Regions from separate parts of the Homo sapiens genome. Here region 2 is linked to region 1. Evidence: fine-mapped expression QTL. A gene starts in region 1. The other region holds a variant in brackets. All regions are shown on one strand. Distances are between the middles of the regions. Region 1 holds the start of BCKDHA (branched chain keto acid dehydrogenase E1 subunit alpha). Region 2 overlaps BCKDHA (branched chain keto acid dehydrogenase E1 subunit alpha).

Region 1 (2,796 bases):
CTCCCAAAGTGTGGGGATTACAGGCGTGAGCCACCGCCCCCGGCCTCCCGTCTCAAACGTTAAAGAGAAATATTCTTGGAGTTAATCTACTTCTGAGAGTTATTTAGCTAGGAAAAGGGGATATTTGCTCTATAGGTAAGACTTGCCCTAATCTTTTTTTTTTTTTTTTTTTTGACTTGCCCTAATCTTAGGGATATTTACTTGTGTGGAGAGATGCAGTGAGGTAGCGGTGGGGATGTATTTCTCAACCCAGCGCAATGACATTATCTTCAATTTGAGGAGTATTTACGTGGGTGAAAGATCCGCCACAGTCCACAGTATGCAAATAGACAGGTTTGCTTCAGTCCGGGATGCAAGGACCTAGAGGGTGTGTGTGTGGGGGGTGGGGGTGGGAGGGTGGAGGAGGAATCGAGTTAAGGGGGATATTTACCCTGGCGAGGTGATTTTCCCTATTCTGAAATATCAATTCTTGGGCGGACAGTCTGCCCCTCCTCTCATTCTCAGAGATAGTTACAAAGATGGAACTATCTTCTCCTTTCTAGTCGTGAGGGAGAGATGTGTGTATCCCTGCGTATTTAGTAGTATTCAATCGGACAAGAAATCATGCATCAACGCAGGAGTGACATTTACCAGCTGGTATCGTGAGGAGGTGGGCACTCGGTTGCACAGTACACGGTAGTCCCTCTCCAAAAGAAAGACCTGGGTGAAGTTCTTACCTTGCAGGAAGGAAGCAGAGCCATCTGGCCGCGACAGCAGGTTCTGTTCGCAGGCAAAGTGCCGGAGGCTGCAGCCAGGACCCCGAGGGCTGGACCCTGTTCCATTTTCAGCACGGATTTTGGCGTCAGTATGCGTCTCCTCCTCCATCGCGCCGAGCCCACGTGCGGCTGCAGTTGTCACTTCCGCCTGGCAGCGCGCGCCGCAAACAGGCTGCGTAACCAGTGCGCACGCGCCGGGCTGGGCCATCCTCCTGGGCGTCCGCACGTGGCTTAGCGTTTACCAACAATCTGGCTCCGCCCAGTCCCACCTCCTAACTCTGGCAACGCCATTGGACATTTGGGAACAGAAGGCAGGCCTTGGCATTGATCCGCTTTACTCTGGGCCCCCGGGCCCTAAATCCCTGAGGCCCTGGTCAGGTTGCCCTCTTCTTTGCCTGTTACAGGAGTAACTACAATGAGGCGATTGGAGAAAATTTTGGGTAGATAGATTTTTTTTTCTCCAAATCTCTGTGCATTCTATCTACCACAGAACGGGAAGAAGATGGTTTTCTTGTCAGATGGTGCTGGAGTTTGCGTCAGGCACATAAAGAGGCAGCCCCGAATCTAGCCTACGTGAGTGCCGGACCGCTGAGTGGTTGTTAGCCAAGATGGCGGTAGCGATCGCTGCAGCGAGGGTCTGGCGGCTAAACCGTGGTTTGAGCCAGGCTGCCCTCCTGCTGCTGCGGCAGCCTGGGGCTCGGGGACTGGCTAGATCTGTGAGTACCTGGGCCCCAGGCGGTTTTCCCAAAGGGGATTAGGGATGTAAAGGCTATCTTCAGAGTGTGGGGTCCCTGAAGGATATGAAGGAAGGGCTGTCACAAAAGGGAAAAAGAGTGGGAGACTCCTTGGAGAAGACACCGAAGGGAAGATCTGCCACTTCCTTAGGAGACGAAAAGAACTTCCACTTCTTTAGGAGAGGAAAAAACCCGTTTGCAACTTCTTTGTGGGCCCTGAGGGAGACGACTTGAAGAGAGAGATGGGGGTTCCTTATTAGCTGCCACTGGTATTCAGGGGAGGCTCCTTGGAGGAACAGGGGAAGACCGCAAGACCTTCTCCCTCAGGGTTTGGAGAATGAAACTGACTTTGTAAGGGAGGGACTTTCTTCTGGGCAAAGATCCCTCTTCAAGAAGAAGAAAGAAGAGAACAGGTCCCTGTCACAGGCTGCATAGGGCCTTGTATTTCTTTGCTCCTTTGCCACAATTCTGATTTTAAAATGAATTGTGTAAAAAATTTGTTTGATTCCTGTGTCTCTTGATCGAATATCAAGACAGAGAATTCGTGTGTTCTGGACACTGTACAGAGGAGACGATTAATATTTGTTGAATTAATGAGGGGAAAAAAGGAGGGAGAGAGGTACAGACAGGGCACTTTGCCCACATTTCTTAGAAACACTTGAGAAGGCTTTGTTTCTTGTCAAAAGGGTCACAATCCCTTCAGGTGGATGCTGCTAAGGGCAAGATTACACTGCAAAAAACCTAGGTGGAAGCCTATCTTTAGACGGGGAGAGGCAATGGGTTGCAGAAGAGCTTTGAACTACAGTTGACAGATAGGAGAGTAGTGGTTACATGGGTGGATGCATGTCCTTGCTCTGCCGCTTTCCACTTGTGTAGCCTTGGCCAACGGACTGCACTTCTCTGGATCTATGGAGCTAATTTTCCTCTCTAAAATATTAACAGTGGCCACCTCATAGGGCTGTGAAAAATCAATATGTAAAATGCTAAGGACTGGACCTGGCACATCCTAAGGGCAATAGGAATGTTGATAGTGAGGGTGGAGGGAAGGGACAGAAACTAACCTTGGAGATGGGGAGAAGAAAGGGGTGACCTTGGGAAGGCCTGGATTGGTGAGGCCCTGGGGAAAAAAATCTGAAAAGATATTGTGAGGTTGAGTCTGATCCTCTGATCCCCAATCCATAAGGAGGGGAAGATGGAATCTGTAGAAAGAAGCTCTGGGTAGGGGAACAAACGGGAGGAGGGTGAAGAAGATGGGCCAGGAGTAGGACGTAGTAGGTATCTAGGAACGGAGTCACTTGAAACAGGTA
Region 2 (2,796 bases), 20 kb after region 1:
CCTCACTGCACTGCAGAGCGAGGGCACACCGGGTGAGGTTAGGGCAGGCCCCAGTGGTGTTGCCTCATTGAGGCACCTCCCCCATCCATGTGAGGCAGGAGAGGCAAGCATTACCATCAACTCTAAAAGCCAGGTAAGAACCTGAGTCAACAAAGGTGAGGTCATGGGCCCAGGCCACATTCTCCTAAGGAGTGGAGCCGAGTCTTTTTATGGCAGTCTGACCCAGAGACAGCTCTCGCTGTTTCCCACCCTTGGCTGTCTTCCCAGGGCTATATGTGGAGTATCAGTGGTGGCACTGGCAGGGAGTGGCGCCCGGTGAAAAGGAGTGTTAAGAGGAAGCACGTGCCAGGTGTGGTGGCTCACGCCTGTAATCCCAGCACTTCGGGAGGCTGAGGCGGGAGGATTGCTTGAGCCCAGGAGTTTGATACCAGCCTGGGCAACATGGCGAGACCCCCATCTCTAAAAAATTAAAAAATTAGCCAGGCGTGGTGGTGCACACCTGTAGTCCCAGCTACTCAGGAAGCTGAGTGGGAGGATTGCTTGAGCCCAGAGGTTCAAGACTGCAGTGAGCTATGATTCCACCACCGAACTCCAGTTTGGGTGACAGAGTAAGATCCTGTCTCTGAGACCAACAAGAAAAGAGGTAGCATGTGTCAAGCAAGAGCAGCAGTTCCCACTGGACCTGGAGTTTCCTGGTGCAAATCAGCCTGTGAGTCTGTATTTTCTTTTTTCTTCAAGACGGGGTCTTACTCTGTCACCCAGGTTGAAGTGCAGTGGCATGATCTCGGCTCACTGCAACCTCTGCCTCTTAGGATCAAGTGATCCTCCCACCTCAGCCCCCTGAATAGCTGGGACCACAGGTGCACGCCACCACACCTGGCTAATTTTTTTTTTGATTTTTGGTAGAGACGGGGTTTCGCTGTGTTGCCCAGGCTGGTCTCAAACTCCTGAGCTCAAGCAGTCCACCTGCCTCACCCTTCCAAAGTGCTGGGATTACAGGCACGAGCCACTGAGCCTGACAAGTTTGTACTTTTAGCACGTTCCCCTGCCCCTGCCCAGTCCTTCTCACATGGGTGGACCTAGTACCACATTCTGAGAAAGCCTGATTCCAAGGTCCTGTATCAGTCCCTTGGACCTTCTTTGACCCTCTACAAGACCTTTCTTTCCCTCCTTAACCAGAGCAACTCCTGTTTCTATCTGTTACATATGCAGCACAGCCACATCTTGTGTGGATTTGTATTATGTCCATTCAAAAGCATGTGTCAGAAAATACCAGTAAACCTGTATTAAAGTTGGATGTTGAAGTAGTGCTAACCACCCTCAACTCTAACTAAAATATCAACAAGTGGGCTGGGCGTGGTGGCTCACACCTGTAATTGCAGCACTTTGGGAGGCTGAGGTGGGTGGATCACCTGAGGTCGGGAGTTTGAGACCAGCCTGACCAACATGGAGAAACCCCGTCTCTCCTGAAAATGCAAAAATTAGCTGGATGTGGTGGCACATGCCTGTAATCCCAGCTACTCAGGAGGCTGAGGCAGGAGAATCGCTTGAACCCAGGAGGCAGAGGTTGCAGTGAGCCAAGATTGCGCCATTGCATTC[T/C]GGGCAACAAGAGCAAAACTCCGTCTCAAAAAAAAAAAAAGAAAGAAAATTAGGTAGATCTAGTGGTGCACACCTGGAATCCCAGCTATCTGGGAGGCTGAGGCATAAGAATTGCTTGAACCTGGAAGGTGGAGGTTGCAGTGAGCTCAGATTGCGCCACTGCACTCCAGCCTGGGTGGCCAAGCCAGACTCTGTCTCAAAAAAAAAAAAAAAAAAAAAAAAAGGTAACTGCTGTGTGTAATGTGATCTCCATTAAATTTGTATCTAAAGAGCGGGTTCTGCGGTAAAGAAAGGATTTGGAAAGCACTGTACTAGAGAGCTCCCTCTGAATAATGTTCCCGGTCTGAGTGCTTGCAGCATTGATCCACAGCGCTGCCCCTAAAGTGTTGGTGTGAAGGTTGTCCCACTCTTCAGGCGGGGCAAAGAGCTTGTCTGAGGGCAATCACAAACCCCCTTCTGTCTTCTAACTTCGGAGGAAGGGCCCCCTTAACCTGGAGCGGTTCCCTTTGATGGGGAGGTGGGTGTTCACCAGAGGTTTTGTTTGAAGAAAAGGTTTTACTGCCATACATGGGTTAGAGTACTTCTGTAGTCCAGAAGTTGTAAATTAGTGGTCTATGCTGTTATTTGGTTCATAATGATGATTTTTTTTTTTTTTCGAGACAGGGTCTTGCTTTGTAGCCCAGATTGGAGTGCAGTGGCACGATCTCAGCTGCCTGCAGCCTTGAACTTCTGGGCTGAAGCAATCCTCTGCCTCAGCCTCCCAAGTAGCTGGAACCACAGGCACACATCACCATGCCTGGCTAATGTTTTGATTTTTTTTTTTTTTTGTAGAAGCGAGGCCTCACCATGTTGCTCAGGCTGGTCTCCAACTCCTGGGCTCAAGCGATCCTCCAACGTCAGCCTCTCAAAGTGCTGGGATTACAGGCATGAACCACCATGCCTGGCCATAGTAATGATTTATGGTTAGAATATTTCTTAAAGGTAATTGAATTAGTTGAAAGCACTTAAATACCAGACAATATCTCACTAAGAGAAAGAAAGAAAAAGGCTAGATTTCTGCTTTCTTTTGAAAAATCAGATTGGCCTTGCTGGGCAGAGTCAGTCAGTCTGAACATCAGTCTTCCTCTTAAAACAAGCCTGAGCTTTCCTGTCTGCCTGCCAGCATGCTGCAGGTCACCCACAGGGCTGAACTGTCCC

The links. PIP is the estimated chance that this variant, and not a neighbour inherited with it, causes the effect.
Region 2: its variant is the best candidate, but not a certain one, in a credible set for the expression of BCKDHA in whole blood (INTERVAL, PIP 0.59).

Annotation. Positions count from the first base shown.
Region 1 is chr19:41,396,465-41,399,260 of GRCh38, forward strand. It overlaps BCKDHA (branched chain keto acid dehydrogenase E1 subunit alpha), which reads left to right and starts at 1,354. Exons shown (of 9, transcript NM_000709.4): 1 at 1,354-1,471. The coding sequence starts at 1,364. It overlaps EXOSC5 (exosome component 5), which reads right to left and starts at 895. Exons shown (of 6, transcript NM_020158.4): 1 at 717-895. The coding sequence starts at 864. RefSeq lists a silencer at 818-1,106 and enhancers at 865-1,537, 1,103-1,382, 1,538-2,209.
Region 2 is chr19:41,416,295-41,419,090 of GRCh38, forward strand. The region is part of intron 4 of BCKDHA (branched chain keto acid dehydrogenase E1 subunit alpha); the gene reads left to right. Among named protein-coding and RNA genes, the nearest start is that of B3GNT8, 9.7 kb to the right of the region's middle. The variant T/C (reference allele first, on the strand shown) is at 1,600.